5 separate regions of the Homo sapiens genome follow, and all the other regions are linked to region 1. The links come from fine-mapping of genetic effects on plasma protein levels. A gene starts in region 1. Each other region holds a variant in brackets. All regions are shown on one strand. Distances are from middle to middle.

The links. PIP is the posterior inclusion probability: the model's chance that the variant is causal. Protein levels are from antibody-based Olink assays in UK Biobank. Linkage for the fine-mapping came from a reference panel and not from the study's own genotypes, which makes the PIPs less certain.
Region 2: its variant is fine-mapped to the plasma level of the GALNT5 protein (UK Biobank, PIP above 0.99).
Region 3: its variant is fine-mapped to the plasma level of the GALNT5 protein (UK Biobank, PIP above 0.99).
Region 4: its variant is fine-mapped to the plasma level of the GALNT5 protein (UK Biobank, PIP above 0.99).
Region 5: its variant is fine-mapped to the plasma level of the GALNT5 protein (UK Biobank, PIP above 0.99).

What each region holds. Positions count from the first base shown.
Region 1 is chr2:157,255,769-157,260,876 of GRCh38, forward strand. It overlaps GALNT5 (polypeptide N-acetylgalactosaminyltransferase 5), which reads left to right and starts at 1,937. Exons shown (of 10, transcript NM_014568.3): 1 at 1,937-3,768. The coding sequence starts at 2,315.
Region 2 is chr2:156,450,154-156,455,261 of GRCh38, forward strand. All of the region lies in intron 1 of GPD2 (glycerol-3-phosphate dehydrogenase 2), which reads left to right. Among named protein-coding and RNA genes, the nearest start is that of GPD2, 16 kb to the left of the region's middle. The variant C/T (reference allele first, on the strand shown) is at 2,990.
Region 3 is chr2:157,152,924-157,158,031 of GRCh38, forward strand. No RefSeq gene overlaps it. Among named protein-coding and RNA genes, the nearest start is that of GALNT5, 100 kb to the right of the region's middle. The variant T/C (reference allele first, on the strand shown) is at 2,872.
Region 4 is chr2:157,169,498-157,174,605 of GRCh38, forward strand. No RefSeq gene overlaps it. Among named protein-coding and RNA genes, the nearest start is that of GALNT5, 86 kb to the right of the region's middle. The variant T/A (reference allele first, on the strand shown) is at 3,076.
Region 5 is chr2:157,187,368-157,192,475 of GRCh38, forward strand. No RefSeq gene overlaps it. Among named protein-coding and RNA genes, the nearest start is that of GALNT5, 68 kb to the right of the region's middle. The variant T/C (reference allele first, on the strand shown) is at 2,377.

The DNA of each region.
Region 1 (5,108 bases):
ATTCTGATTTAGTTGTTATGGGAATGCATAGATTTTATTAGACTGTACTTTAGACAGGGAAGGAATGTCACACAAGTTGTAGACTGTATTGGCCAGGATTTTTCAGAGAAACAGAACCAATAGGATTCATAGAGGTAGATAAGTGAGTTGCAGTTTATTACAGGAATTGGCTCATGTGGTTATGGAGACTGAGAAACCTCAGTCCAGGCCACCTGCAAGCTGGAGAACCAGGAAAGCCAGTAACATGGCACATTCTGAGTCCAAAGGCCTGAGAACCAGGGAAGCCAATAACATCACTCTCAGTCTGAGGTCAAAAGCCTGAGAACCTAGTGAGGGATGTGGAGGTTGTGGGGGCAGACTGGTACAAGCCCCAGAGGCCAAAGCCAGAGAATCTAAAGTTCTAGTCCAAAGGCAGAAGAAGAAAGATGTCCCAGCTCACTAACAGAGACAGAATCCACCTTTCCTCTGCCTTTTTTTCTATCTGGGCCCTCAACCAATTAGTGGTGCCTGCCCACATTGGGTGAGGGCATCTCCTCCCCACTCAGTGCACTGAGTCAAATGCCAATCTCTTCTGGAAACACCCTCACAGATATACCTAAAAATAATGCTTTACTGGTTCTCTGGGTGTTCCTTAGCCCAGTCAAGTAGACACCTAAAATTAAATGTCTCATAGGCAATGTTCAAAAACCAAAAACAAACAAACAAAAAATTGAGACTTTTTTTCTAGACCAGTGTTTCTCAACTTTAGCTGCACATTTGAAAGACCTGGGAAGCTTTGTAAAAAAAAAAAAAAAAAAAAAAATATATATATATATATATATATATATATATATATATATATATATTTAATACAATATCAGCCCAAATGTCATCTCCACCTCCTCTCTCATCAATTGACCAGAGTTTTGGGGATCTTGTTTCAAGTGGTTCTAATGAAAAGCCTGTGGCGGAACTGCTACCCTACCAGTCAACCAGCATCACTCAAAATCTGGTCCAAGTCCTGGTGTGGTCCTGAAACTGTTGCTTGCTGGTTTAAGACGAGATAAGTACTGAAACTGAGAGTAAGTGTATCTTAATCTGTTCAGGCTACTATAGAAGAATAACATAGACTAAGTGACTCATAAACAACAGAAACTTATTTCTCACAGTTCTAGAGACTGAGAAGTCAGAAATCAAGGCACCAGCAGATTCGTTGACTGGTGAAGGCCCATTTCCTGGTTCATAGATGGCACCTTCTCATTATGTCTTCACTTTGTGGAATGGCAAGGCAATAGGGCCTCTTTTTTAAGGGTGCTGATCCCATTCATGAGGGCTCTATCCTTATAATGAAATCACCTTCAAAAGCCCTACCTCCTAATACTATCACATTTATGATTAGGTTTCAACATATGAATTTTGGGTGGACATAAACATTCAGACCATAACAAAGTGTTTAGAAACTTTTATAGCAGTATGACAAATTAAGTTTATTTGTAATCAAATGTAATAATAAAAACAGATGGATTAGTGAAAAAAAAATAGTTGGCTTACAAAGAAATACATTGAAACCCCTTGAATGAATGATCTAAATAATTAAACATATACATCTCTGGAAGTGAGGATATACCAGGCCCCTTCTTTAAGCTGTTATGTCTTAAAGCTGAAATGTTAACTTCAGTGATAAATTCCTCAGGCAGAGCATTGGCACCTGGCTACAACAGGGTTAATGAGCAGGAGTAGGGTAGGTGGGGTCACAAACCAGGAACACATGCCCTCCAAGTTAGATAGCTTTTTTTCCTCTTTAATTGCCGTTTAAACACACATGCTCTCACATAACACAGAAGGTGAGAGCTGAATGAAGTTTTCTGGGTAATGGCATGAAATGTTTTCCTTATGAGAAGTGGTGTTGAGTTACAGCGTGCAGACGGAGAACGGGGAGGAGAGAAACGGCAGTCTCAATCTGGCCCCCACCTTTTCTTGGGCTTGTAGGAAGGTGGACATGGGCTCCCGGAGACAAGACAAGTGATATGTTGAACTGTTCGGTGGCTGGAATCAACTGCTCCTGGAGTGACCTAAGGCCAGTGTTTATCAGAACTTAGCCAGGGCCAGCCAAGCAGGCACAGATGCTCTGCTATGAAATGCCACGCAGGCAGAGACTGACAAGCGGTAGGAACTGAGCTTTCCCCTTGGACTGCTGCTTCCTGCTGTGTTCAGGGGAGGGGGTCACTTTCTGGCAACTCTGCTGCTGCTGCTGCTGCTGCTGCTACTTCAGCTTCCTCTCCACTCAAGGTAAGCAGGCTAAGGGAGGGCAGGCTGCTAGGGAAAGCTTTGTACCATGAACAGGATCCGAAAGTTTTTCCGAGGAAGTGGGCGAGTCTTGGCATTTATCTTTGTAGCTTCTGTCATCTGGCTCCTCTTTGACATGGCAGCTCTCCGCCTCTCATTCAGTGAGATCAACACTCGGGTCATCAAGGAAGACATTGTGAGGAGGGAGCGGATAGGATTCAGAGTTCAGCCAGACCAAGGAAAAATTTTTTACAGCAGCATAAAAGAGATGAAACCTCCCCTAAGGGGACATGGGAAAGGGGCATGGGGCAAAGAGAATGTTAGAAAAACTGAGGAGAGTGTGCTCAAGGTTGAGGTGGACTTGGACCAAACCCAGAGGGAAAGAAAAATGCAGAATGCCCTGGGAAGGGGCAAGGTTGTGCCGTTGTGGCATCCTGCACATCTGCAGACCCTCCCTGTGACTCCTAACAAGCAGAAGACAGACGGGAGAGGCACCAAACCTGAAGCCTCCTCTCACCAGGGGACACCAAAGCAAACGACAGCTCAGGGGGCTCCAAAGACCTCATTCATAGCAGCAAAAGGAACTCAGGTAGTCAAAATATCAGTACACATGGGACGTGTCAGTTTAAAACAGGAGCCCCGGAAGAGTCATAGTCCCAGCAGTGACACATCAAAACTAGCAGCTGAAAGGGACTTGAATGTGACCATCAGTCTTAGTACTGATAGACCAAAGCAGCGATCACAGGCAGTAGCAAACGAGAGGGCACACCCTGCCAGCACAGCAGTGCCGAAGTCTGGGGAAGCCATGGCCTTAAACAAAACTAAGACTCAGAGCAAAGAAGTCAATGCAAATAAACACAAAGCCAATACGAGTCTTCCTTTTCCTAAGTTCACTGTCAATTCAAATCGCTTAAGGAAGCAATCTATTAATGAGACACCTTTGGGAAGTTTGTCAAAGGATGATGGAGCTAGAGGGGCTCATGGGAAGAAACTCAATTTCTCTGAAAGCCATCTTGTGATTATAACCAAAGAGGAAGAGCAAAAGGCAGACCCCAAAGAGGTCTCTAATTCTAAAACCAAAACAATATTTCCTAAAGTATTGGGTAAAAGCCAAAGTAAACACATTTCCAGGAATAGAAGTGAGATGTCTTCCTCTTCACTTGCTCCACATAGAGTGCCACTGTCCCAAACTAACCATGCTTTAACTGGAGGGCTAGAGCCAGCAAAAATCAACATAACTGCCAAAGCCCCCTCTACAGAATACAACCAGAGTCATATAAAAGCCCTTTTACCTGAAGACAGTGGAACGCACCAGGTGTTAAGAATTGATGTGACACTTTCTCCAAGGGACCCCAAAGCTCCAGGGCAGTTTGGGCGTCCTGTAGTTGTCCCCCATGGAAAGGAGAAGGAGGCAGAAAGAAGATGGAAAGAAGGAAACTTCAATGTCTACCTTAGCGATTTGATCCCAGTGGATAGAGCCATTGAAGACACCAGACCTGCTGGGTAAGACCTATTTCTCTTCTCTTTCCTCAACCCCAAGTGCTTTGGCTGTTATGTAAAGAGGATTTATTGCTAGATAATTCTGTGTGATTTTTGGTCACCTAGAGAATTAAAGAAACATTAATCATTGGATATCATTCAAATATTTCACCAGCTACAGAGACAAAAATTCTCTTATTAGCAGTTGCAGAGTTCTTGTTCTCTGAGACTTTGGTCCCTACCATTAGCTCATGTTCAATTTTCTTCCCTCTGTTGAAAACCTATTAAAATGATTAGATGAACTCAGTTCATAATAACGTGTATATAAATGGTAGAGCTTAAAGTGTAATTCCATTAGAATAGTGACAATGAAGTGAATTCCCAATTTTGGAACTTTTCATTATTAGCAAGTTTGTCAGGAATATATTTGGGAAAGAAGCACACAGAAGGACTCTTCTAGGCCTCCCTGGAATCATATCTTAACCAGCAGAATTCTGCCTAATCATAAGTAATGATAAGCAGGATAGCAAGAGAAGTGACTTTACTCCCTAAAATTTAATCTCCTTTATAGGTGGAGATGGTAGATATTTCAGGAGATCAGTTACATAGGAATCATAATGTTGGAAAAAGTCAATCAGTCCATGACCAGCAAACACCTACAGGAGGTATAAAAAGCATAATAATAATCACTTATATTTGTAGACATTCACTATTTACAAAGAGCCTGCATACACATAGATGAACTCCATATGAGCCCTGCAAAGGAGGAGGCAGTCATTATGGTTCAAATTAACAAGCTGGCGAGGGCGCTCAGAAGTTACAACACTTTCTCAAGGTAATGCAGTTCTAAAGCTGCCCAATGGGCCTTCAGTAACCAGTCCTTCAAAAAGTTAAATTCCTATAACTATATCACCAGATGTGGATCAAAACATAGATATTTAATCTGATTCAAATATAATTGGGTTCCTGGCATTTTTTTTCTTGGCCCACTGATAAGTGAAGGTACTCAACAGCCGTATGTTCAATATCTGTTAACTCAGTTCCCTAAGTCAAACAATATTTGCCAGGAAGTTGGATTGGGGAATGTCAAGATTGAGACTTAGCACATGTGGCATGTAAACAATGGCCTTGTTTGGCTTCTGTAGAAAATTCTTCTTTGTGATCTAGGTAGTCAGCATTACATTTTAGTCAGTGTTACTAGGAGGAAGGCAGATACAGGAGAAGCTTTATCCACATTAGAAAGAAGAGTCTCTTCATTGTGATGTCGGCTACAACCAGGTCGTTTTCCATCTCTTAGCCATCAGCAAACAGCTATCAGCCATGCACTGCTTATACCAAGCACTGTGCCATTCACGCTTCTCACC
Region 2 (5,108 bases), 810 kb before region 1:
GTCCACTTACTGAGAAGGGGAGAGCTGGGAGAGAGGCAGACTTGATGGAAGATATAAAGTGTTCTGCTTTGGCTAAGTTTGAAGTGATTATTAGATATTCCTTTGGAGATGTCAGACAACTGGGTGAATGGGGTTTGGAGATTCTGAGAGGGGTTTGGCTGAGGATACAGACTTAGGAATTATTTGCATATAGGTTATATTTGATACTGGATGGAGTTACCTACAGAGAATGTATATAGAGAGAAGCAGGCCATTGAGCAACTATTATATAGAAGAGAAGGAGGAGTTGCCAGTGGGATGGGATGGAAAGCAGAAGAGCGTGGTGTCTCTGAGGCTAAGAATTCAAAAGATATTAAAAAAGAGACGGTTCTACTATGTTAATTATAGAGATTACATTTGGTGAAATGAGGTCATTTGTGATTTTGACAATTTGACATATAGTTTAAGAAGAGGCTGGGACAAAGTTTATTGGATTAAATTGTGGAAGTGGAGACAGTTCTTATAGACAACTCTTTTTTTTTTTTTTTTTATTGCTCATTCTTGGGTGTTTCTCGCAGAGGGGGATTTGGCAGGGTCACAGGACAATAGTGGAGGGAAGGTCAGCAGATAAACAAGTGAACAAAGGTCTCTGGTTTTCCTAGGCAGAGGACCCTGCGGCCTTCCGCAGTGTTTGTGTCCCTGGGTACTTGAGATTAGGGAGTGGTGATGACTCTTAACGAGCATGCTGCCTTCAAGCATCTGTTTAACAAAGCACATCTTGCACCGCCCTTAATCCATTTAACCCTGAGTGGACACAGCACATGTTTCAGAGAGCACAGGGTTGGGGGTAAGGTCACAGATCAACAGGATCCCAAGGCAGAAGAATTTTTCTTAGTACAGAACAAAATGAAAAGTCTCCCATGTCTACTTCTTTCTACACAGACACGGCAACCATCCGATTTCTCAATCTTTTCCCCACCTTTCCCCCCGTTCTATTCCACAAAACCGCCATTGTCATCATGGCCCGTTCTCAATGAGCTGCTGGGCACACCTCCCAGACGGGGTGGTGGCCGGGCAGAGGGGCTCCTCACCTCCCAGTAGGGGTGGCCGGGCAGAGGCGCCCCTCACCTCCCGGACGGGGCAGCTGGCAGGGCGGGGGGCTGACCCCCCCACCTCCTTTCCGGACAGGGCGGCTGGCCGGGCGGGGGTGCTCCTCACTTCCCAGTAGGGGCGGCTGGGCAGAGGCGCCCCTCACCTCCCGGACGGGGCAGCTGGCAGGGCGGGGGGCTGACCCCCCCACCTCCCTCCCGGACGGGGCGGCTGGCCGGGCGGGGGGCTGACCCCCCCACCTCCCTCCCGGAAGGGGCGGCTGGCCGAGCGGGGGGGCTGACCCCCCCACCTCCCTCCCAGACGGGGCGGCTGGCCGGGCGGGGGTCTGACCCCCCCACCTCCTTCCCGGACAGGGCGGCTGGCCCGGCAGAGGGGCTCCTCACTTCCCAGTAGGGGCGGCTGGGCAGAGGCGCCCCTCACCTCCCGGACGGGGCAGCTGGCAGGGCGGGGGGCTGACCCCCCCACCTCCCTCCCGGACGGGGCGGCTGGCCGGGCGGGGGGCTGACCCCCCCACCTCCCTCCCAGACAGGGTGGCTGCCGGGCGGAGACACTCCTCACTTCCCAGACGGGGTGGCTGCCAGGCGGAGGGGCTCCTCACTTCTCAGATGGGCGGAGGGTCTCCTCACTTCTCAGACGGGGCGGCCGGGCAGAGACGCTCCTCACCTCCCAGACGGGGTCGCGGCCGGGCAGAGGCGCTCCTCACATCCCAGACGGGGCGGCGGGGCAGAGGCGCTCCCCACATCTCAGACGATGGGCGGCCGGGCAGAGATGCTTCTCTCTTCCTAGATGGGATGGCGGCCGGGCAGAGACGCTCCTCACTTTCCAGACTGGGCAGCCAGGCAGAGGGGCTCCTCACGTCCCAGACGATGGGTGGCCAGGCAGAGACGCTCCTCACTTCCCAGACTGGGTGGCGGCCGGGCAGAGGCTGCACTCCTGGCACTTTGGGAGGCCAAGGCAGGCGGCTGGGAGGTGGAGGTTGTAGCGAGCCGAGATCACGCCACCTCACTCCAGCCTGGGCACCATTGAGCACTGAGTGAACCAGACTCCGTCTGCAATCCCGGCACCTCTGGAGGCCGAGGCTGGCGGATCACTCGCGGTTAGGAGCTGGAGACCAGCCCGGCCAACACAGCAAAACCCCGTCTCCACCAAAAAAATACAAAAACCAGTCAGGCGCGGCGGCGCGCACCTGCAATCGCAGGCTGAGGCAGGAGAATCAGGCAGGGAGGTTGCAGTGAGCCGAGATGGCAGCAGTACAGTCCAGCTTCGGCTCGGCATCAGAGGGAGACCATGGAAAGAGAGGGAGAGGGAGACCGTGGGGAGAGGGGAGAGGGGAGAGGGAGAACTCTTTCAAGAAGTTTCATTATGAAGGAAAGCAGAGACGTGGAAAAGTTCTTGGAAGAGGATATTGGTCAAGGGAGGGTTTGTTAGAACTAGAGGATAATACAGTGAATTTCTATGCTGACAAAATGATTAAGTAGAGAAGAGGAGCTGATGAAGGTAGGAGAGAGTGGTGGGTAATTGTACAAATAAAATTTCTGAAGAGCCAGGAAGGAAGGGGATCTAGTGTACAAATAGAATGATTGGTCTTTACTTGAAACAGGCACATTTTATTAGTAAAAGGAAGGACTGCAGAGAGAATGAGTACAGAGGTGGATAAGTCATCATTTGGGTGGTGGGAAGATGAAATTTTTACCTAGTTGCATCTACTTTACTTTCCCAGTGAAGTGTGATGATATTGGGGTGTGGAGGGGTGAAACAGGTTTGGGAAAAGAGATTTCAAATGGCTATTTTGAAACATCCTGGGGAAATGTAATAGGATTGTGGGTCAGTGTGGATTGCACATTAATGATTTGCAGCTATGAATTTAAATTGAGGCCAGTTGTGGTTGCATGTTTTTTTT[C/T]CCAGGCAGTTTCTTCAGCTGTTTGGGTGGAGATGTGAAACAGGCAGATAGTTGGGTTTAACTGGTTTGGGGGTTTGCCAAGTAAAAATGAAGCATGAAGAGAGGAGCAAGGGAGTTAAGGGTGCTTGGAAGGGAGAAATTACAGTGATGGACCTAATTTAATTCTCAGCTAGGCAGCAGGAGAAGTGACTGATAGTGAAGCAAATAGTAGGGTCAATGGACTGAAGGGCCAGATAATGCCAAGATGGTGGAATGGAAATTCCAGACTACAGTAGATAAACTGAAGAAAGAGAAGGTGGTGTTTACAGTGTAGGGTGCTTGAGGCTGGAGTCTGCGGAGTTGATATAAATAGTGGGGATGCCCAAATCAGAGGTTATGATAATGAGGTAGGGTCAAACAAAGGTCATCAGAGGTGAGGTGGTTGAGGAATTGGAGCCTTCATGTAGTTGTAGAAAACAGCAATGATGGCCGGGCCTGTAATCCCAGCACTTCGGGAGGCTGAGGCGGGTGGATCACCTGAGGTCAGGAGTTTGAGACCAGCCTGGCTAACATGGCAAAACCATGGCTCTACTAAAGATACAAAAATTAGCTGGGCATGGTGGCACATGCCTGTGATCCCAGCTACTTGGGAGGCTGAGGCAGGAGAATCGCTTGAACCCGGGAGGTGGAGGTTGCAGTGAGCTGAGATCACGCCACTTCACTGCAGCCTGGGTGACAGAGTGAGACTCTGTCTCAAAAACAAAAAACAAAACAAAAAAGAAAACTGCAATGATGAAGACAGATGAGTCTGGAAAGGGAAATAGGTATGAAGGTCATCAGCAAATAAGGGGAAATAGCAGTAGTTGGGTAGATGACAGCGAGAAGGGATAATGGGTGGTAAAGTCTAATGGCATAAACTTCAGACAGGTAAGACTTTTGAAAGAGGATAGAAGAGAAATTGGAAGGTGAGCTGGAGAGACACTTAATCCACCTCTAGGTTAGGGGATCTTGGGGTTATGAACAGAGTCGTTACTCAAAGTGTTTGACAACTCATGTGAAATGGTAACCTGCTGATGTCGGTGTTCCATCAGGAGCAGGGTTCTGGGGGCCTTTTGTGAAGCTAGATGTTAACTCTTTAATCTCTTGATCATAGCTAGTTGTCAACTGGTTGAGAGGTATTTTGATACTTTAGCAACTGCCATAGCCATCCTTGTTTATACTGGCTGAAACTAGACCTAAGTATGAGAATATAGGGCCATGTGTGGTGTCTCAGGCCTGTAATCTCAGTGCTTTGGTAGGCCAAATGGGAGGATTACTTGAGGCCAGGAGTTCTATACCAGCCAGGGCAACATAGTGAGACCCTATCTCTATGAAAAAAAAAAAGTGATAATATAACCAAGCTTCTCTTTATATGATATGGGAAAATAGTGTTATTAGTGTTCAGCATCTGAAATTCAGGTTAAATCTTACTTTCTTTATGTTTTCAAGGTTTAGTTTGGTGAAAGGAACACTCAGAGAAGAGAATTTAATGGAATTTGCTGGGGATAGAGTTTAAGTACCAGAGGGCAGAGTGGGAGGGAGGGAGGCCTGGGAAGGTGAGAGATGGGGAAGATTGGTCTTCTGGTGATGACTGAGGAAAAGAGGGCTGTGGAGCATGCTAGGGTTAGTCCTGGTGATGTCTTGGGGGAAATTGGGTAGGTACCATGTGGCAGCTCCTGTTGCTTAGTGGCCAGGGGTGAGCAAAAGCCTTCTTAGTGTGTCTGTAGCCTAGGTCATCTCCTGAAGACGTAGTGGCCAGTTGGAGTATAAAGGCCTCCTTGGGGACCAGCTGCCCTTCAGTGGCTGATAGCATGAGGTGCTCTTAGGGCCTCTTCTCAGCCATGATGGTGGTGTAACCCTGGGGGAGAGGGAGGGGTCTTCTGTTTGAAGGACTAAGGACTGCTGCTCCCAGGGAGCAGTCATCTTAGCAATTCTCCCTCCAAAATGGATTTGGACTTCGTGCTGTCCCCTCTGTAATGACTGTGGTTGTCTTAGTATGGACTCTCAGGAGTTGCGTCCAGTCTCCTGACTGCCCTGAATCCAGTCTTCTGATTTCCTTACTCCCAGATTCATGTTCTTTTAGTTTATCTGTCAAGACTGC
Region 3 (5,108 bases), 100 kb before region 1:
GTTAAATGAATCTTCATTACATTCAAAATGAGATGAAATAATTGACTGAGGATACCAAAAGAATAAAGCAGCAAGCTTACCTATAAATCAAAGAGGCCTCCCTTTTCTTCTCTAAAATGAATAAGTCTCAAATATATGAGGAGATAATTGAGAGTCAGTGACACAAAGAAACATCACATAAACCTATCTATGTACAACACAGACCTGGCTACATTTGTTATTACTCTTTAGAGTTGTTTTTCATTTCAAAAGGAATAAAACTACAGGTCAGAAAATTTCAAAACTTAGAAAAAAGAAAGAAAAATGATCATCTTGATTGCAAAGAACTCCATTTACTTATTCATTCTTTCCCATATATAATTAGCATTGAATATTACATATGTATCAGACACTGTGCTATATCCAAGAAATACAAAGATGTTTATAAGCCCCTCCCTACAGAAATCAACAGTTTCTTTAAGAAGATAAACTCAACAGTACACAATTAAAACACAGTGTCATAATTACTCAGAGAGATGCATATTTTGTAAATGATTTCAATTTGTACCTAGTTTCAGGAGGATTATGCAAGAGGTGATGAAACCTTAATTCTGATGTTGATTCCGCTAGTAATTAATTATGTGACTTACAGTTTTCTTTTCTGGGACCCTGTTCCTTCATCTGCATAATGAAAGAAGTTTGACCAAATGCTCTCTACACTCCCAGGTCTTCATTATCTTACTGCATGGGAATTCCCTTGTTAATTCTCCTCATCATGGATGGTGGTGTTTAATACCCCACAACAATTTACCCTTTAACCGGCCCATCATATCAAAGGAGGCCACCTATGTGTCTTTTTGTCATCCCCTATCTTCTACTGATTATCCCATTTTCCCTTTTGGAAAGGAAATAGGGAACTTTATAACTATTATGTGGTCATCAATATGCCCAAGAGACAGTAAAGGAATTGTTTTCAAGAGAAAGATGATAAAATTCCCTTCACTGTTACAAAATTCTCTATGCCCCGAAGAGAATCCTGGCTCCCACAATATATTTTCTTACAACACTTTTCTGGATGAGACTTCTCTGCTATTAAAAAAGGATTATTCTGAGTAAGTGGTGAGGATGCCTTCGACTATTTAGCATAGATAAGAGAATTGCCACTTGCCTGGATCCTGGGGGAATGGAGAAATAAGTTCTTTCCACAGACACACCGAATTGATTCCATTATGTTTCCATTCTTCTTCAGCAGGGACACTTATCTTCCTTTATACTAGACAATTTATGGTTGAAATTCAGTAGACGCCTCTGAATCTCTTTTGCACAGTCCATGTAGAGACTTCTCTTCAGCTGGTAGGTTGTCAGTATCATGGTAGACTCATCAGAAGCCAAAGACTGAGTTTTACACTGGCCTAGATGGAAAGATTTGGTGATTTCAGTTTTTTGCTTATCAGTCAACTGTCTTTATTAGAATCTTATTCATTGTCGTAAACCATAAAATTTCTATTTCCTTTTAGCTAACCCTTAGAATGAAGTTGCTTCTCAGGGGAGAATAAAACAATCTTTTCAGGGGAAATCTAGGATAACTTACGTAAATGTCTAACTATAATAAAGTATAGCATCAATTATTGTCTCTTAAGTATATAATAAAGATCTTATCCTAAGCCCAACTCTCATATCTGAGCAAAATTGATAAATAGGGGAGGAAGACAGATTGTAGTTGACATTCCTGTAACTAAAGGAGAGGATGTTTTGCTGTATTTAGTCCACAGATAGAGATAAGTGGAAAGGTCAGAATGGTCTCTACTCCACACTCAACCCCATTGAATGGCACCTGAGCTGTTCTTACACGTAAAGACAACGAACTATTTTCACAAAGGACCTGAGGCACCTAGGGCAACCATAACATTGCTGCCTGGTCCATGACAAGCTTATCACAGACTAGAAAATATACACATTCTTCTCGCTGCATTGAAAAACATAGTAGAGGCCAGGCACGGTGGCCCATGCCTATAATCACAGCACTTTGGGAGGCTGAGGCAGGCAGATTGCTTAAGGCCAGGAGTTCGAGACCAGCCTGGCCAACATGGCAAAACCCCATCTCTACTAAAGATACAAAATTAGTCAGGCATGGTGGCATGTGCCTGTAATCCCAGCTACTCAGGAGGCTGAGGCAAGAGAATCACTTGATCCCAGGAGGCAGAGGTTGCAGTGAGCCAAGATCGCACCATTGCACTCCAGTCTGGGCAACAGAGCGAGACTCCATCAGAAAGACAGAAAGAAAGAAAGACAGAAAGAGAGAAGGGGGGTGGGAAGGAAGGAGAAAAGAAAGAGAAAAACATAGTAGAATTCTACAAAATGGGCTCCAGTATTTTAACATCAACAACCAGCATGTTACAGATAGGTAGATAACGAGCAGGGCAAGGGAGAGCTCTCCCCGCACCCACTAGGAATGTCAAATGATGGTTTGGCAATTATCACATTGCCTCTCCAAAAATAATAATTCGGCAGCCAAGGAGAGACAATCTCTTGATGGTCCACACCGGTTAACATTAAAAATGTTAACTGAATGCAGGCCCCAGGGAGAAGCAACTTTTTGGGCATGTGTGTTAACAGACAAAAATAGCGAAGTATGATCTTCTAGGGGCACACTACACCGGAAAAGGGAAGAAAAGCCTCAGATGGACATGCATATAACTCCCTAAACACACTGGTCATGCTCAGTTCCCAAGGGTAAGGAGGACACTGCACATGTAGAAAGCCCACCCTAAAACAACAATCATGGGAAAGAGCAAAGCCTATAAAGTCCTAGGATCAAGGTTAAAGGCTCCGTTTTTTGCTGTCTTCTTTTGTTTTTGCTCTCTTTTCTCTCTTGGACCTTCAGGCGCCCGC[T/C]TGGGTCTCTTCCTAGCAAATTTTTCTTTCTTTCCTGTTCTAAAGCCTTTTAAATAAACTTCTACTCCTGCTCTGAAACTTGCCTTGGTCTCTTTTTCTGCTTTATGCCCCTCAGTCCAATTCTTTCTCCTCAGGAGGCAAGGACTGAAGTTGCTATGGACCCATACAGACACGCTGCTGGTAATTCAGGGAAACTCGAATCTCTGCCACCACTAACAAGCAGAGCCATGAAAGAGACCTTAGTGTCCAACAAATGTGATGGTACCCTCAGGATATCTCTGAGATGGCAGATCCACAGCAGCCATGAATAAATAGCATATTCGTGGTAGGAATTAATGGGTGTATATATAGCATTACAGTTGTTGAGCCCAGTGCTAAAATGTGTTTGTGAACTATCTGATTTCAAAAAAAATACTTGAGGGTAAGGATTGCTTAATACAGGGTGCTTAAAGTACTGTACTAGATGAGAGCAAGAGTTGGTGCTATTTGGCTTAAGCAGAGACTTTTTTTAAAATATAGAATAGTATAGCAGTTTTAAACTGCCACACTTTGTCATCAATTCATTCATTTATTTATCAGTTATATAGTAAGCACTCACTGTGGTAGGCCTAGGATACACTGTGGTAAATTAAACAGACATGGTCTTTGTACTTTTGGAGCTCATCATCTGATCAAGTGCATACACATTAAACAAGCAAATAAATGAGTTAACATATAATTAACATTGTGATAGATGTTATGAAGGAAAATAGAAAGCTAAGAAAAAAAAGAATGGGGTATTGAGATTCACTCTTGTTCAGTTAGTTGAGGAAGGTGTTTCTGAGGATGTGATATTTAAGGGAGACTGAAAGAAAAATATCAAGCCTTGGTCAAAGACATAGTGATTAAAAAACGATTAGCGTGCCTGAGAACTGAAATAAGGATAGCATAGCTGGACTTTAGTGACACATTTCACCAAATTTGTTTTTAACTTGAGTAGACATAGCTTTGATCTCAATACCTTTCTTAATTTCCTCCAGTGTTACAAAGTGAGAAGATGCTTATCAAGAAAAATGAAAGGGTTGATGATATGCCAGAAGTATTTCATAGACCCATTTTCAACTTCCTATTGAAAATTGTTACTGAAAAAGAAGACAAGAGAAGACTACACGTTATGAACTAAGAGTTGGCACAGGGAAAGAGGAAAAATAAAAGCATGGTATGTCAAAACGAGACCAAAGATACTATTTTGCTCTTAAATATCCTAATTAGAGAAATATTGGTTTAAATGTATACAAGATAAACTTAAAGATATAATTGGTAGAATTTAAAACTCTCTCTTTTAAAGCTCTCTCTTTTAAATCCCTTCAAAAGATAAAAGCAAACAAAATATGGTCCAAATATCAAGAGAGGAAACATAGAAAATGGCAAGGAAGCACAGAAAATAGAATCCATAAAACAAGATGACAGAAGCAGGACCAAACATATCAGTTATGACAATGTATGTAAATGTGTTGAACTCCCCAATTAAAAGGCAAAGACTCTTAGATTGGAGTAGAAAACAACATCCAACAATATGCTGTTTACAAGAGACAAACTTAAAACAAGATGACTTGGAAAGGTTATAAATAAAGGATAGGCAAAGACATATCTGTAAAATGCAAACAAAAAGACAGCAGAAGTGGCAATATTCACATCAGCCAAGGTAAAATTCAAAATAAAAACTATGAACAATGCAAAGAGGATTATATTGTCTTTATAAAAGAAGCAATCTAAAAGAAATTATATTCATTATCAAATGTATGTGCCAAGTAACAAAGAACAACACAAAGGAGAAAAACTCATATAAATAATTTTTAACAAAATCATAATCATAGTATGAAACCTCAATGCATTACACCAAGCCATGTCAAATCAATTCAACACAAATGAATAAGGACCTGGAGAATTCAAGGTATATTAAAATTCACATTTTCCAGAGAGAAAATGCACATGGACTCCTTTAAAAAGTGGCAATTCTCAAGGACATGAAGAAATTGGAAATAAATTCTCCAAAGCAGAAATTGTTCAGCATATACTTCCAAACACAATTTTTTAAAATTGTAAAATTATAAACAAAATTCAAATAAAGTACTCCAACAATACTGTTTAAAACTCACTCCTAAATACTGAGTCCAGAAGGTGCGCAAATTAGTACTCTAACCTAGAAAATACCAAAAACTATAAAGTCAACATTTACTAAGAACATAACATGAAGG
Region 4 (5,108 bases), 86 kb before region 1:
TTGTTATTTTTATTTTATTTTGTTTTTTTACATATGGGGTCTCGCTCTGCCACCCAGGCTGGAGTGCATTGTCATGATCACAGGATCACAGCTCACCACTGCCTTAAACTCCTGAGCTCAAGCAGTCTTCCCACTTCAGCCTTCAGGGTAGCTGGGACTACAGGTGCATGCCACTGGGCCTGGATATTTTTTTTATTTTTTGTAGAGACAGGGTCTCACTTCATTGTCCATGCTGGTATTAAACTCCTGGACTCAAGCGATCCTCCCACCTTAGCCTCCCAAAGTGCTGAGATCACAGGTGTAAGCCACATACCCAGCCTCTTAGTTGTTTTTATGCTTTTTAGCTCCCCTTTTTTACCTTCCTTTATAGGTTCCTCTCTTCCCTCTTCTTTTTCCTTACTCCTACAGGTGGTATCCCCAGTGGTGGGTACTTTTCCTCCTCGGCTCCAGGTCCATGCGTCTGGGTCCTGCTGGATAGTCCCTCCCCTAATGATCTCACCTTCTACCGGAAGACCCACTGTGGTTTACCTTCCACTGGGTCCACTCAGATCTCAGGCTCTGTTACACCACCCACTTTTGTTCCTCCAGCTCTCCAGAGGCAGAAGCATTCTGGGGTGTGGCTATTCTCTAGGTTGCTTCCCCATTTCCTCAACTTGTCTATTGCTTATGTAACTGATTCCTTCTATTGAATTTTCTCTGTTGGAAATATCTAAGGTAGTTTCAATTTTCTTATTGTATTCTAACTGATAAAAATGGCTAAATCAATTTGTGGAGTAGTGATGGATTAGTGGAAATAGAGAGACTGGATTAAGAGAAGAAGTGGTACCAGAGTTCTGCAGTAATCACACATACCTAAATTATTTGCTTTCATTAACTTTAAGGATATTTTAAAACAGAGTGTGCACAGCAAGAGGGACTGTGATGATCCTGAGTGTTGAAATCTCACTGCATGATGCAAACTAAAAGGGCTTGGGGCTGTGGGTGTAAGAGTCATCTTGACCATTGACAGTGCAGTCACGTTGAAGAACAGACACACTTTATGTTGTTCTATGGTCAGCAATGAGGAGGATCAGATTATGAATAAACAACAGAATCTTCCAACAAACAAGGATGACTAGGCTGCCTCATGAAGTTTGAGTTGTCAGTAACTGAAAATGGCCAAGCAAAGACCACAGGTCTATTTTTAAGGGACTCTTGTTCTACTGTGGAGCTGAACTGGGTAATACACAAAATCTTTTCCAAATTGAAAAATGGATGGCTTACCCAGGTCTCTGCAACCAGGTCAGCTGTAGCAGCAGAAGGAGAATATACAACCCCTGAATCAGAAAGTTCCAAAATGTCTTCAGTTTAAGTATACTTATATAAACCAATATAAATAAAACTCCATGCCATCCACCTATTTCCAAAGGGCCTCATAGTTGACAATTTACATTTGCAAGAAGACTAAGATATGACTCATTTTATATCATATTGCTCTCAAAAAAGGCTTCATTAATTTGTACTATGCTGAGTGGAAATTATTCAAGAAGGCTGCTATTTCAATAGGACTGATACTTGCCCATCTGGGTAGATCCATATCACAAGAGTTCACTGATAGACATATTCTGATGTAAAACCTTTTTTCTTGTTTTACCTCTACAGATTTTTTCACCTCACTTTCTCCTTGATTTTATCCCAAGTATTTTGAAAATGTTCCAATTTTGACATCAATCCAATTGCTGAGAACTCTAGCATAAAATGAAGAAAGACACATAAAAAGAACAGCATTAACCATATAAGCACATTCATGCCACATTTATAAGGCAATCAGAGAAAACATGCATATGTACCCAAGTCAGGCAATTTTACATGTGTAACAACTTATCTAATTAAAGAAAGAAATATTTGACAGATCTATACTGGTCAACTAATTACACATTTTCTTTTAACAATAACTAGAATTCAGATGCCATCTAATTACTATGTTTTCCATGATTGAAACCTTAAAATTTTTTTCTTATGTATCAATTGCAATAACATAGTTATTTACATCTATTTTTCTTGATATCTTTATTCTAAATGTCTTTCTTCTTTGCCTCAGTAAAAGTATTCCTCTCTATTGCATATAAATGCTGCATGATAAAAGTACCGCAAAATTTAATGTCTTAAATAGCCTTTACTAAGCTTACAAGCCTTCAAGTCAGCAAATCAAGTTGAATTCTGCTGGGCTGGTCTCAGGTGGGCTCACTCGCATATCTGATGGCTATAGTCACAGAAGTGACTAGACCATGTGTCTCTCATCATTCAGCAGGTGAGCTTAAGCATGTTCTCATGGCAAAATTGAGGAGAAAAAAAATAGAAACCTACAAGTGCTATTTCAAGACTCTACTTGTCTCAAGTTTGCTACCAACCATTGGTCCAAGCAAGTCACATGGGCAATCACCGAGGCAGTGAAGGGTACAACGAAAGGGCATGCATACAAGACACCTGGATAAACTGGGACCATTCATGCCACATAAAGAAAACATGCCTAAGTGCACAGTTAATGCAATTTTACATGTGTAATAGCATTCTAACAAAGGGATAAATCCTGTTATCTGTGCTGATCAATAGGTTAACTGGTTTTATTTAATAATATATTACAAACTCAAATGCCATCTATTTGCAATGTTTGCCTTGATTGAAACCTTTAAATATTCCATATTTATCATTTGCTGAAAAACTTTACTTGATTTCTTTATTGTAAGAGTCTTTTTACTTTCAGCCCAATGAATAAATAGACAGGTAAACCTCTTCCTGGTGTGCTGTTGGTTTTGCTGGAGAGCCTCTGTTCTTGAATTGAGGTGCTGACTGTTTATTTCCATGAGTCAAAAAGCAAAATTTAAACATACCAAATTGTCTACTGTCCATGGTTGGATCTTGGACAAACACAATGCAGCACTTTAAATATGGCTGTGGAAATGATTACTGCTGGTTGCTCATGAGGAATTATTCATCATCACCTCATGTGTTTGGTTCTTTCTTCACCTCCTACTCCACAGACATGAGTGCTCACCATTTTGTGGCCATATCTAAAAGAATTATTAGTCATTAACC[T/A]ACCTCTTCACCAAACAAGTATTTTTCAAATAAGTATTAAGAATATTGTTTTTAATTGAAAAATAAACAACCCAGGTATATTTTGTCTACTAAACCATGGTTTTATTAAGGGTCGACATAAACCCATGCCGCCTCAAACTTCTGAAGCAATCAAATAGGTTATATGACTAAAAGGAACTACATATTATTAAGGTGTTTTTCCCTTCACATAAGATCTTTAAAGAAGATACTACAGCGGTAAATATAAGCCAAAAGCCTATTTTATGTGAAATTTTACCATACCTTACTTTTTTTTTTTTCCTTTATTTTACTGGATTTCAAAACACACATGTACATTGGCATGAATGTGACCTGTCTCATTATGAATAAAACACCCAAGCAATATGAGCACATTTTAAAACAACAAAGAGTGTACAAAAGTTCAGTCTTCTGGAAAATGCTTGAAAGATATTGTGGATTTTTCCATTTACAGAAGCCTTATTGTTACTGTCCTTCCCACATCTGCTATTCATTTTGGGTACCTCCCCACAATTCAGTGAACAAAGGTGCCAAAATGTTGTTATTAATAATTCTCAAGTACCTTCTTCCTTTACTTCTAAATAAAAGATCTTTAATATATAGAAAGGATACTTAGTTTCACGTGAACCAGGATGCATAGTCTTAGCTACAGGTCTGTGGTTTGGGTGACACTATTTTGTGAAAACAAGGTGCACTGGCAGTTTGAGAGGCACAGGGCACAGTGTTGAGTGTGTTCTCTAGGATGAGATAAACCCAGGACACCAGGACCAGTTCAACCCGGGTCTCACAGAGATTGCTACGAACACTTGGCAACTTCTCAAACCCTAGTTTTCTCATCTGCTTATAATTCTTTATAACTACAACAATAACACAAATGTCCTAGGGAAGGCTATTTTCTGGGGGAAAAAAAAACTGCAGAAGATCTTTCTATAAAGGACAGTACTCTATGACATAAATTCCCAATCTCTCTTTTTTTGTAAATGTAGAATTTTGCCTTTTGATTTTTCCCTAAAGGAAGGCACGCCTATTTTTCTAGAATAAACAACCACAGAACTTCGTTAGTTTAGGGGCGGAAAACGTAAAGGTAGTGGTGTTTTTGTCCCACTGGCACAGATGCTTTAAGCTTTAAAACAACCTCCTACTTCTTAATCCCTCTCTCCATATTCTTGCCAAGCTCTCTGGAAATCTGAGTTTTGGACACCCTCCAATACCACATCTCATCCATATGCCTGCCACAGAGGAAGACATTCCGCAGGCTCTTTCCTTCACTCTATGAATGATTCATGTGTTAAGATCTTAAATACTCACTGAACGAAGGACCTAATGGCTTGAAAACCTGATCTGACGTCAAGGAATTGTGCTGTTTTAGGGACATGCTTCTAAGGCTGGTTGTTTATCCTTGCTCAATCCCAAATCAGAAAGCCCTCTATTAGGCAAGCAGAGAACATGACGGTGTCCCCTTTTTGAGAATCTTTTCTGAGACTCACATTTCTAAAGAGCATTTCAGCTCCGGTGTCAAAATGGGGAAATAGACTTTTGCTGACAACAGTATATTTAAGTCTACACCAGGAAAAGTAAGTGAAAGGTTAATGTTATCATTTCATTTTCCTCCAAGAAAAATAAACCATATTTTAAAAATCACTTTCACCACCTACAGCAAGATCACAAAACAAACTACAATCTACAGGGAGAGGCTGGCAACTAAAATAAGTGGGAATGATCAAGCCAGAGACTTGGTCCAGTCTAAAAGGGTACAGTCCTTACTTAGCTAAATTTCAATGATTTTTAAGGAAGCACATGGAACCAGAATTGCCAGAACTTTCATAAATTCAACAGAAGCCATAAACCTTCATTCTTATGTGAAGTCTCCCACTTTTAAACATCGGTAATTAATTCAGACAAATGTAAACATTGTATAAGCCAAACAAACACATCTGTAGGCCAGATTTGGCCGGTAATGCCAAATTTGCAAAATTTGACCTCTAGCTCTACTTACTATTATTTCATTTAAAACT
Region 5 (5,108 bases), 68 kb before region 1:
TTTGGGAGGCCGAGGCAGGTGGATCACCTGAGGTCAGGAGTTCAAGACCAGCCTGGTCAACATGGTGAAACCCCGTCTCTACTGAAACAAATATAAAAATTAGCTGGGTGTGGTGACGGGCGCCTGTAATCCCAGCTACTTGGGAGGCTGAGGCAGGAGAATTGCTTGAACCTGGGAAGCAGAGGTTGCAGGGAGCCGAGATTGCGCCACTACACTCCAGCCTGGGTGACAATAGTGAGACTCCATCTCAAAAAAAAAAAAAATAGTCAGTCATGATAGGGAAAGGCTGCCCCTTATTTAACTCCCCTCCTCACTGTTTCCTTATTTTGCTGTTTTAAACTGTTATCTCTGCAGCACATCTACAATTCTGCATATAAAGTTTACAGCAAAATAATAAGTTTTATTTTATAAAAAAACTTTATTAAAAATAATTTTCCTATGAACTGAGGGGTGTGAAAGTTGTTTAATACTATAATCATACTAGAATAAAGGCCTTAACCTAGTGTCATTTTGTAAATATGTGCATTTTCACAGGGAGAAAGTCCATAGTTTTCAACAAATTCTCAAGAGAATCAACTATATTTGTAAAATAAGATAGTAAAAACCAAAGAACTGTTTTTTAGGAACATGAATTAACAAGATAAAGAGCCTTCTGCAATGATATTTAGAAGGCAATGTATACCTGCTCAAGATATAGGCAATATTAAAAAAGAGACTATCAGTCAACATTAACTTACCAGACTGATTAAAATTCTGTGCCAATTAAGAAATCTGAAAACTCCAACTAAAAAACAAATATGTATTCTCATTATTAACTATCTATTTTTTAATGAAAGATTATCCAAAAGAGAACAGTTAAGGGCATATGAGAGTTATATAGAAGGCTACAACTAGTGACTTTACCAGTGACCTTACCATACTATTAAAAAATCACTATATACATGCACAAGAATGAAAGTGTATTCTTTCATTGTAGAAATTACAAATACTACTGTATCAAGGTACCACCAAGGTGACTGTTTCAGAACACAGGCCGGGGGACCTATTTTCTGTTCCTGCTTTGGTCTTTGTCTCTCTCCATGCACCTTGAAAAGATGTGTTAGTCTTTATATCTCCTTTTTTTCCCCATAAAGTCACAGAACCACTTGTTTATTATTTACTTTTTAGTGTATTCAGAGAAAATTTTAAATATCAGGCCAGTTTTTCATAACTACTCAAGATATTCTGTTCACTACCATGCAAATACCCCTTCAGGAGATGCAAATTACTTTTATTATTATATTAAGAACTGCAAAGTGAAGCCAAAGAATAATTCAGTGAGTTACATAATATGTGTTCTAAAGATGGATATAAAATAATTTTAAATTATATTTTTGTTGTAATAACAATTCCGTTCATGTTCTCTGCTAGAATATGACAGCATTTGGCAAAGGTGATGCACGAACCCCAGGGTGTTGTACAAGACAGTCAATTAGGTTTGGAAGGAAAATAATTAGCCTTGTACTTATATTTACATTGGCTTTATGATATCATACTCCTTGTTTCCCATCCTTTGTGTATGTGATGCAAAGTAAATAAATTATAGTATTTTATAATATATTGGATACTAGTTTGCTGTAGTCTACATAAGCATACTAGTTTTGATACACTTTATTGTTACTACTACTACTGTCTTATTACTAAATTGTTAATATACTATATAATTATAAAAGAAATATGTAGTGTAGTCCTGTATGCATATAATCTAGTAAACAAATATTCACAGTTTGTAGGGCAAACGCATGCCAAAAAGATTTACTGGCTATGGAGTTTATTATTAAAATCAGTTTGGAGACCACTGGTGCTGTAGTGTGACGCTTAAGGATTCAATCAACAACACACAAGTAAAAATATAAATGTAGAAAAGCACATTGAGTAAGGATAACGGTGTTGCCTTCACTATTGACACCTATGAAATGGAATTTTAATAGGGCATGTTGGAGGGTGGTCAACAGAGACAATTTTGCTAATTAATATGGATGGAGGATGTTACTTTAAGAAGGGTATGGAACACCTGAAAGTGTCTAGTTGAGAAAGAAGAAATAGCAATCGTGTGTGCATGCCTCCCAAGCGCCTTGTTGGCCTGTCTCTCTCAAGAAGTGTATGATTAAGACATACAAGTTTCCAGTCATCAGTGTAAACAGGATTTTGATTTGGTTTGGGAAAGCAAGCATAAAGAAATTATACGTATCAAAAAGAGTAGATAGGTCACAGTGTCTGTAGTTCTTATGGAAGAGGGAAGCACAAAAAGCCCACATTAGCACATCAGTGAGAACTCCATTTGCCATACACCTACTATGAAAACCGAGAACTGAAAGGCCTTGTACCTTGCCTCCT[T/C]TTCAGGTCTGTTCAGAAAATAAACCAGAACCATACTTAAAAAAAAAAAATGATGAAACTACAAATAACATATTAAATTATTCTTGAGTTGAAATAGAATGAAAGTTTCAGCTTCTGCCTTAGTGGATGGGAAATGAGGTTAGTTCAGACAAATCATAGTTGCAGAAAGTAATCTTCTTGTAGGCATCTAAGATAATTAGGAAACAACCCAACAACTGTTTTTAGAGTCTTCCTAGTCTTGGGAGAGCATAGCAGAGGAAGAAAGCATCTGCAAAAGGCTTGGCGTTCCCTGGAAGACAGGCACTGCTTGAGTCCTAGTACTACATGACCATATTTGTTTTAACTTAGTAATGTTCAAAAATTACGATATTCCAAAGATGGGAGGATAATAATGCCCATGAACTATCTGGAATAAAACTATAGATCAATTTTCAGAAAATATCCAATGTGGGATTTAAGGGTTCTTTCACTTTCTTCAAATTCCTGGGATTTTTAAAACTATATTGTTGCTAAGTGAGTCAGTTCACACACTCCTCATGACCTCCCCACCCCTACATTCCCGCGGATGCTTTGTGGAACTGCTGATGCACACTGATGCCCCAGTAGAGGTTTCCTGCTAGCCTTCGTGTTTTTCCTCTCTCCTTCAGCTGTCATTCCTTCTCAGTTTATCATCATCGATAAAGCCTAGAGGTAGCTTGTCTGCCATAAATACTTATCTGATACAGAAGGGAAAAAGCCTTTTGGAACATGACTAGGTGGCCTGTCTTGTCCTATATTTGCCTGGGGAAATGTGAGAATTTGTAATCCCTATTGCTAGGGATTTCTGGTCATTTTGAAGTACCATTAAAATGATTATCAAAGATTTAAATTCAGCAATGAAACACATGATTCTCTTAATGACAAGGTCAACTTAATTGGGTGTCTGTCCTAAGTGAAATATTGCTCATAACTGGCATCCCCCGATGTAGTTTAACATAAAATTATAAGTTGGAATTATTTTTTTAAAAAAAGCAGTGTATAGAAACTGAATAGTATAATTTCAGATCTGAGATTTCTAGCAGAGATTACAAGAAAACATAACTAATCAACAATCTTTATCAATTAAACATATTTTAATTAGTCCTGTGCTAGTAGGCAAGTCTAATCTGTCTCAGTCCCATCTTTTAAGAAAGACTTGTCTAAAATGTTAACCTGATTTCTCATTTATTTTCATTATTAGTCAGGTGTTATGACCTTCCACTTCATTTGCTTGATCCCTATGTCCTTGCCTCGGAAGAATCACAGATAAATTGTCTTGTGATTATATTTACTGATTAAAAATATTAATATGTTACCAATTTCTCAGTCTAATGTACTTAACACTAATTTTCAGATTTGTAATACATTTCCACCTAGTCCTAATTATGTTTTCAATATTCACTGAGATAGGAATATTTAAAACTGTCTAATGTAGACATTTTCACCTACTCTTTTTCCAAAAATTGTAAATACATGGCACAGCAGAAGTCCTCCCTCCTTGACCTCAGGGAAACTGAATTAAACAACACTTGGCACCAGGCTTTCAACCTGTATAATCATTATGGTAGGCCCTGTGCCAATCCTGTTTATGCACAACCCTCAGCATGCAGTATTAAGGAACAACAAGGATGGCAAGCATCCCATTGAAGAATTAATTAGCAGACCGCCTGGACTCATCAGAATGGTAAATAATTATCCTCTGACAAACTTAGTCAGATGTTAGAAGAAATTGCCATTGGAATTGATGTCAATGGCCACAATTCATTATTTAAAAGCTACCAGTGGCTACATTTTGCATAGAACTTGAAAGACGCCCCAGTCAGGTGATGAGCCATCAGTATCGCATTTTCCTGCCTGTGGGAATATCCAGCTGTCCTCCCCGCATCCCACACTCAGACCCAGTCTTCCAGGTCAGCTTTTTCTTTCCTTCACACTGAATCCTCATACCATACTCAGATGTGCCCAAGTAATGGATTGATTAAACATATTACCCTGCCTTGTTCAGCATGATTTTAATCCTGTCTGTGGCATCAAAACACAAGGACAGCTTCTTATCATTTATCCCAATTCTTGGCAAGAGGAGAGATTTCTTAGGTGTTTGTTGTCCTCTTCCTTTGACACTATTACCTTTGGTCAGGTTAAAAATACTTGTGAACTAAATGACTGATAATTGGTTAATCTACCTAAGTTAGCAATGGGTAAGAAGCATTACCTGGAAATGCATTCTCCTCCACGTTTTAAAATGGACAAGGAAGGTAATTCAATACCTTCCTACATAGTACGCATCCTTCAGTTATGCCAACTACGAAATGGGTCACTTTAAGTAATTTGAGGAAGAAAGAACACAGTTAAGTAGAATCATGATGCAGACTTTCATTTTACGAAAAGCATTAAAAATTCAACTAGGTCAGATGCTTTCTAGCTCAGAGTCCCACTGGAGTCTCATAAAGCTTAAATATGTAGGTTTAGGTGGTACAGTCCTCAGAATCACTCTCTCACCCTCATAGCAAAATGCCTCTTACGATTATGAGGAGGAGTGCAGTACACTTTCCCATAAAAATATATCATGATATCCATCAAACGTATTGTACAGCATGATAGATATTCCCTTCTAAATTTTGACAGGACAATGAGCATGGCAGACTTGGCAAAGTCGCATGAATTGTTTTTACCTCAGAAATGTGTGCCAAGTAGTCCCGAGCAAGTAGGCATGA